Homo sapiens: one gene and its partner. The protein of the gene in region 1 interacts with the protein of each later gene in a pairwise test. Each region holds a gene or a part of one and is shown in the gene's direction. Other genes may lie near its edges.

The links. Proteins that work in one complex are often made in the same cells at the same time.
Region 2: the proteins of DEUP1 (region 1) and BRMS1L interact in binary tests that used the Homo sapiens proteins (3 or more experiments, as listed by UniProt).

The regions. Positions count from the first base shown.
Region 1 is NC_000011.10:93,372,242-93,375,741, forward strand, and holds part of DEUP1 (deuterosome assembly protein 1), read left to right. Parts: intron 1-3,500. UniProt on the Homo sapiens protein: Key structural component of the deuterosome, a structure that promotes de novo centriole amplification in multiciliated cells.
Region 2 is NC_000014.9:35,829,338-35,832,837, forward strand, and holds part of BRMS1L (breast cancer metastasis-suppressor 1-like protein), read left to right. Parts: intron 1-457; exon of another isoform or gene 458-570; intron 571-1,343; exon of another isoform or gene 1,344-1,443; intron 1,444-2,072; coding exon 2,073-2,163; intron 2,164-3,500. UniProt on the Homo sapiens protein: Involved in the histone deacetylase (HDAC1)-dependent transcriptional repression activity. When overexpressed in lung cancer cell line that lacks p53/TP53 expression, inhibits cell growth.

The DNA.
Region 1 (3,500 bases):
CTTATTCATCAGTACTTGAGACGTTCTTTTATCTCCCATTTTAGGTTTTTTCTCCCACCTCCAAATATTCAGCCTGTTTCTATCACTTCCTCCATGACAGTTGGCCGATATCTTTTCCCCACTCTATTCCCTCGTCTACCTAGCATACATGATTGAGGTAAGGTCACTGCCTGAGAACTTCCATTTCATTTCCTTGAGATATACCACCCCAAGATCTTTTGCCACTTAAACTCCCAGGGTCATTTCTTAGTCCTCAGCCAACTCCTCATTCCCCCACCGTGCCACATCATATTTGGGATTATATAGGGAGTTAGTCCTTTAACTTCTTTCTCTGCCAGCATCTACTGTTCTATGTTCCTCTTTCCCCATGCTTGGTAAGGGACAGAATTCAAGGCTCCCAGTCTCTCCCATTCAGAGGCAATTGTAAGACATACATATTCCCCACTTCAAACTCCAGCTTTAAGGAGGGAGGTCTTATTCTAATACAAGTTAGAATACAGATGTAAACCAATAAAGAAAGCTAATCTACAAACACTAAATGCAGAGGAAGCCAGAAATAGTCTGGAAATAGCAAAGGTATTGATGGTGTTTTCTCTGGCTTCATTCTAATATAAATGAGGTTAGCACTCATTCATCTGCTCTAGAGGGTGCCTAGGGGCTTCTAAGTGCTTAGCATCAGCCCACCTCCGACTGTCTGAGCTGTGTTTGCATGACTGCGGGTCATGCAGTGATGGGGTCTTTCCTTCTCAGAGGCTGCTGCCTTTTGCTTCGCTAAGTATATGACAACTGGTCATGCTTTCTATTTAAAGGCAACCTATACTTACATTTTGCAGCTGTCTTTGTACTGCTGGAATCTGCATCAGAATCACATTCAGTAAATAAGAAAATTGTTGTTCTTGGTACTTCCCAAGTATTCTCCTCTAGGCTTGGGGTCATCCAGTGCCAACCAAAGCATTCTCTGCTTTGTCCCTTCTTCTTTTGGCAGGGGAACAGGTGGTGGTGGTTGGTTACATAAATAAGTTCTTTACTGGTGATTTCTGAGATTTTGATGCACCCATCACCTGAACAGTTTACACTGTACCCAATTTGTAGTATTTTATCCTTCACCACCCCCAACCCTTTCCCCTGAGTCCCCCAACATCATTCTTATGCCTTTGAAGCCTAATAGCTTAGCTCCTACTTATGAGTGAGAACGTAAGTAGGAGCAATAACAAAATGATGTTTCGTTTTCCATTCCTGAGTTACTTCACTTAGAATAATGGTCTTTAATTCCATCCAGGTTGCTGCAAATGCCATTATTTTGTTTCTTTCTATGGCTGTGTAGTATTCATATATATATACATATATATATACGTATATATATTTATATATGTATATATATACGTATATATATATATATATATATATATACGTATATATATGCCACATTTTCTTTATCCACTCATTGATTGATAGGCATTTGGGCTGGTTCTATATTTTTGCAATTGCAAATTGTGCTGCTATAAACATGCATGTGCAAGTATCTTTTTCATATAATGACTTCTTTTCCTCTGGGTAAATACCTAGTAGTTAGATTGCTGGATCAAATGGTAGATCTACCTTGAGTTCTTTAAGGAATCTCCACATTGTTTTCCTTAGTGGTTATACTAGTTTACATTCCCACCAGCAGGGTAAAAGTGTTACCTTTTCACCACAACCATACCAACATCTATTATTTTTTTGATTATGGCCAGTCTTGCAGGAGTAAGGTGGTATTGCATTGTGGTTTTGATTTGCATTTCCCTGATCATTAGTGACGTTGAGCATTTTTTCATGTGTTTGTTGGCCATTTGTATATCTTCTTTTGAGAATTGTCATTCATGTCCTTAGCCCACTTTTTGATGGGATTGTTTGTTTTTTTCTTCCTGATTTGTTTGATCTCCTTATCAATCCTGGATATTAGTCCTTTGTCAGATGCATAGTTTGTGAAGATTTTCTCCCACTCTGTGGGTTATGTGTTTACTGATTATTTATTTTGCTGTGTAGAAGCTCTTTAGTTTAATTAGGTCCCATCTATGTATCCTTGTTTTTGTTGCATTTGCTTTTGGGTTCTTGGTCATGAAGTCTTTGCCTATGCCAATGTCTAGAAGGGTTTTTCCAACGTTATCTTCTAGAATCTTTATGGTTTCAGGTCTTAGATTTAAGTCTTTGATCCATCTTTAGTTGATTTTTGTATAAAGTGAGAGATAAGGATCCAGCTTCATTCTTCTCCAATTATTCTTGCCAATTATTCCAACACCATTTGTTGAACAGGGTGTTCTTTCCAGACTTTATGTTTTTGTTTGCTTTGTCAAAGATCAGTTGGCTGTAAGTATTTGGGTTTATTTCTGGGTTCTCTATTGTGTTCCATTGGTTTCTGTGCCTATTTTTATACCAGTACCATGCTGTTTTGGTGACTATAGCATTATAGTATAGGGTATTTGGTAATTTGATGCCTCCAGATTTGTTCTTTTTGCTTAGTCATGCTTTAGCTATGCAGGCTCTTTTTTTGGTTCCATATGAATTCTAAGAATTTTTTTCTAATTCAGTGAAGAATTATGGTGGTATTTTGATGGGAATTTCATTGAATTTGAAGATTGATTTTGGGAGTATGGTCATTTTCACAATATTGATTCTACCCATCCATGAGCATGGGATGTGTTTCCATTTGTTTGTGTCATCTGTGATTTTTTTCAGCTGCGTTTTGTAGTTTTCCTTGTAGAGGTTTTTCACATCCTTGGGTAGGTATATTCCTAAGTATTTCTTTTTCTTTTCTTTTTTTTTTTTTTGCACTATTGTAAAAGAGGTTGAGTCTTTATTTGATTTTCAGCTTGGTCACTGTTGGTGTATAGCAGTGCCACTGATTTTTGTACATTGATTTTGTATCCTGAAACTTTACTGAATTCATTTGTCAGTTCTAGGAGCTTTTTGGATGAATCTTTAGAGTTTTCTAGGTATATGATCATGTCATCAGTCAACAGAGATAGTTTGACTTCTTTTTTACTGATTTGGATGCCCTTTATTTCTTTCTCTTGTCTGATTGCTCTGGCTAGGACTTTCAGTACTATGTTGAATAGAAGTGCTGAGAGTGGGCATCCTTGTCTTCTTCCAGTTCTCAGGGAGAATGCTTTCCCCATTCAATATAATGTTGGCTGTGGGTTTGTCGTAGATGGCTTTTATTACCTTAAGGTATGTCCTTTCCATGCCAATTTTGCTGAGGGTTTTAATCATAAAAGGATGCTGGATTTTGTCACATAATTTTTCTGTGTCTATTGAGATGATCATGTGATTTTTGTTTTTAATTCTGTTTATGAGGTGTATTGCATTTATTGACTTGCATATGTTAAACCATCCCTGCATCCCTCATTTGAAACCCACTTGATCATGGTGGATTATCTTTGTGATATGCTGTTGGATTCAGTTAGCTAGTATTTTGTCCAGGGTTTTTGCATCTATGTTCATCAGGGATATTGGTCTGTAGT
Region 2 (3,500 bases), on another chromosome or scaffold:
TAAAATTCTCCCCCTATAATTTTTATGTTGACTCTTGTGATTTTTAACTTTTAAAAATTCCATCCCAAAAAATAATGAACAACTTAATTTTTGAAGAATGTGATAATAATTTGAACTACAAGTCAAAATTTTAAGTGCAAAGAAATTGTTTAAATAAATTTTGCAGTTTGCTTCTGTTAAAGCATCTCTGTTCTACCATATGTCTTTCATGTTAAACTTTCACAGTGTTTTCTTCTCAAATGTTGGTGCTGAGCAAATTCTAAGGCTACGGAAAAGCCTCTACTATCCAGAGAACTTGGATAGTGAGTCATCTTGAGGGACCAAGTTTTGAGTAGCCAAGAAGTAAGCAATCAAAAGCCAGAAGTATTTTTAATCTGTTTTAGAAAATGAGAAAAAAATGAGTCAGCCTTCCATGTTATATAAAAATAATTGAACATGATTTAACTCTTTCTCATAGTTTGACTTTTATTTGATGAAGATCAAGATGCAGATCATTTTGTGCTTCAGTTATTTTGATGAATGAATATATGTGATATGAACATAGAAAATGTGGACTATAGGACAGACCTGGTAATTAACAGTTGCTTTCCTTAAAAAGTTTGTATTTTCCTCCTCATTTGCCTCTTTCTCACTGATAGTAATATGGGTAGACGGAATAAGGGAACGTAGGAATGGCAGACCAGGAGAGCCTGTGGTAAACATAATAAGATTAGTTTTCCTTTTTCTTTTTCTTTTTTTTTCCTTTTTTTGAGATGGAGTTTCGCTCTTGTTGCCCAGGCTAGAGTGCAATGGCACGATCTTGGCTCACCACAACCTCCACCTCCTGGGTTCAAGCGATTCTCCTGCCTCAACCTCCCAGGTAGCTGGGATTACAGGCATGTGCCACCACGCCCAGCTAATTTTGTATTTTTAGTAGAGATGGGTTTTCTCCATGTTGGTCAGGCTGGTCTCGAACTCCTGACCTCAGGTGATCCGCCTGCCTCAGCCTCCCAAAGTGCTGGGATTACAGGAGTGAGCCACCATGCCTGGCCTTTCTTTCACTTTTTATTTTTGAGACAGGATCTCTGTTGCCCAGGCTGGCGCAATCTTGGCTCACTGCAACCTCTGCCTATCAAGTTCAAACGATCCTCCCACTTCGGTCTCTCGAGCAGTTGGGACTACAGGCATCCACCACTATGTCTGGCTAATTTTTGTATTTTTATTAGAGATGGGGTTTCACCATGTTGCCCAGGCTGGTCTTGAACGCTTGAGCTCGAGCAATCCTCCAGCCTCAGCCTCCCAAAGTGCTGGGATTACAGGCATGAGCCACCACACCCGGCCACTTTTCTTTTTTTATGTGACAGGCAAATCAGCCATGTGAGCAGTTCTGAAAGAAGAATCCCAAAAATGTTTTTGAGCAATGTTAGCCTTTAAAGGACACAGTCATTTTGGTGCTACATTCTGGTGAGTTGGTGGAAAACAAACCAAATGTGGGCTAATTACTTTATAGTTATAGCTTATAGTCAGTCCTTTAAAGTGATTTAAAAATGAATAAAAGTAAGAGGGTCTAGAGACCAGTATAGTTTTATATACTCATCTGTATTTTAGATTAAATCTATAGTGGATTTTTTTTTTTTTTTTTTTTAGACTAGGTCACTCTGTCACCCAGGGTGGAGTGCAGTGTCACAATCATGGCTTACTGCAGCCTCCAACTCCTGGGCTCAGGCGATCCTCCTGCCTCAGCCTCCTGGTAGGTGAGACTACAGGCTCATGGTACCGTGCCCAGCTAATATTTTTATATTTTGTAGAGATGGGGTCTTCCTCTGTTGCCCAGGCTGATCTTGAAGTCCTGGGCTCAATCTGTCCTCCTGACTTGGCCTTCCAAACTGCTGGAATTAGAGGCATGAGCCACTACGCCCAGCAGAAATTATTATTTTTGATAAATCTTGTTTATTTTCTTTTAAGGCTTAATATAGGTCTTCTCTTCATATTACAGTTTTTCTTCCTATTTGAATTACGTTCAGATATATTTGAGATGTTCAGATAAATTTGAAAATTAAGTTTATCTTTTATATTTGCCTTTTTATTAACAGAAATGGATGATGAAGACTGTGAAAGAAGAAGAATGGAATGTTTGGATGAAATGTCCAATCTTGAAAAACAGTTTACCGATCTCAAAGATCAGTAAGTAGTGACTTTAGAAGGCCATTGTCACTGAATCTCAACCTTGTCACTTGTATACTAGCACAAGAGCAACTAGATTCAGTCTCAGCTGTTTTGTATTTTATGCGACAGACCAATTTGAAAGAGGCTTCAACTATTGTTTGTCTACTAAAGACCTCATTAACTAAACTGAGGGTTTGGAGGCAGGGTTTTTTTGTGGGCTTGAACCCAGGAGTTGGAGACCAGCCTGGGCAACATCGGAAGACCTGGTCTCCATAAAATATTTAAAAATTAGCTGGATGTGGTGGTACGTGCCTGTGGTCCCAGCTACTTGGGAGGTTAAGGCAGGTGGATCAATTGAGCCCAGGAGGTCAAGGCTGCAAGTGAGCTGTGCTCGTGCCATTGCACTGCAGCCTGGGCGACAGAGTAAGACACTGTCTTAAAAAAAAAAAAAATTAGTTCTGTCCTGCAGGATTATTGCCAAAAATAAACACTGAGTTGTATCATACTCTAAAGGTATTGGTGACAGCTGGCAAATTAGAGTATTTGTAAGTGGCCTTATAAATAGGAGTAACAGGGACCTCCTGCCCCATTTTTGAGTTCCTTGTTCATTGAGCAACTAATTTTGTTATGGCTTCTTCATTTGTAGTTGAGACAAACTTAGTATGTCAGGTCATAAAAACATTGGTTTTACCTTCATTAGTCTACTTCCTCTTTGCTCTTTTAAAAAATTAAGTAGGCTGGGCCGGGCACGGTGGCTTACGCCTGTAATCCCAGCATTTTGGGAGGCTGAGGCGGGTGGATCACGTGGTCAGGAGATCGAGACCATCCTGGCTAACACGGTGAAACCCCGTCTCTACTAAAAAATACAAAAAAAAAAAAAAAAAAAATTAGCCGGGCGCCTGTAGTCCCAGCTACTCGGGAGGCTGAGGCAGGAGAATGGCGTGAACCCAGGAGGCGGAGCTTGAAGTGAGCGAGATTGCGCCACTGCACTCCAGCCTGGGTGACGGAGCGAGACTCCGTCTCAAAAAAAAAAAAAAATTAAGTAGGCTGAATACAGTAATACTGACTCCTTTTCAGGAACGGTAGAGAGAAGCCAAGTAATTATTTATTTTGACAACTGGTAATGTCTATTCAAAATGATTTCTTTGTTTCTTTTAAACTCAGTGTTTAAATGACCTTTTCTCTTAGAATTGGTTTTATTGTTCTGTGGTTAAAACAAAAACAAACATTAATAGTGCCAAAAAGTAGTTATTTCAATTTTATTTTTTTGTATTGGGAATTGACCATTAAAGAGTGATAGATAGATACCTGTTTTGTGATTATGTGCATAAAGTCAAATAATGTAACTGAGTTCT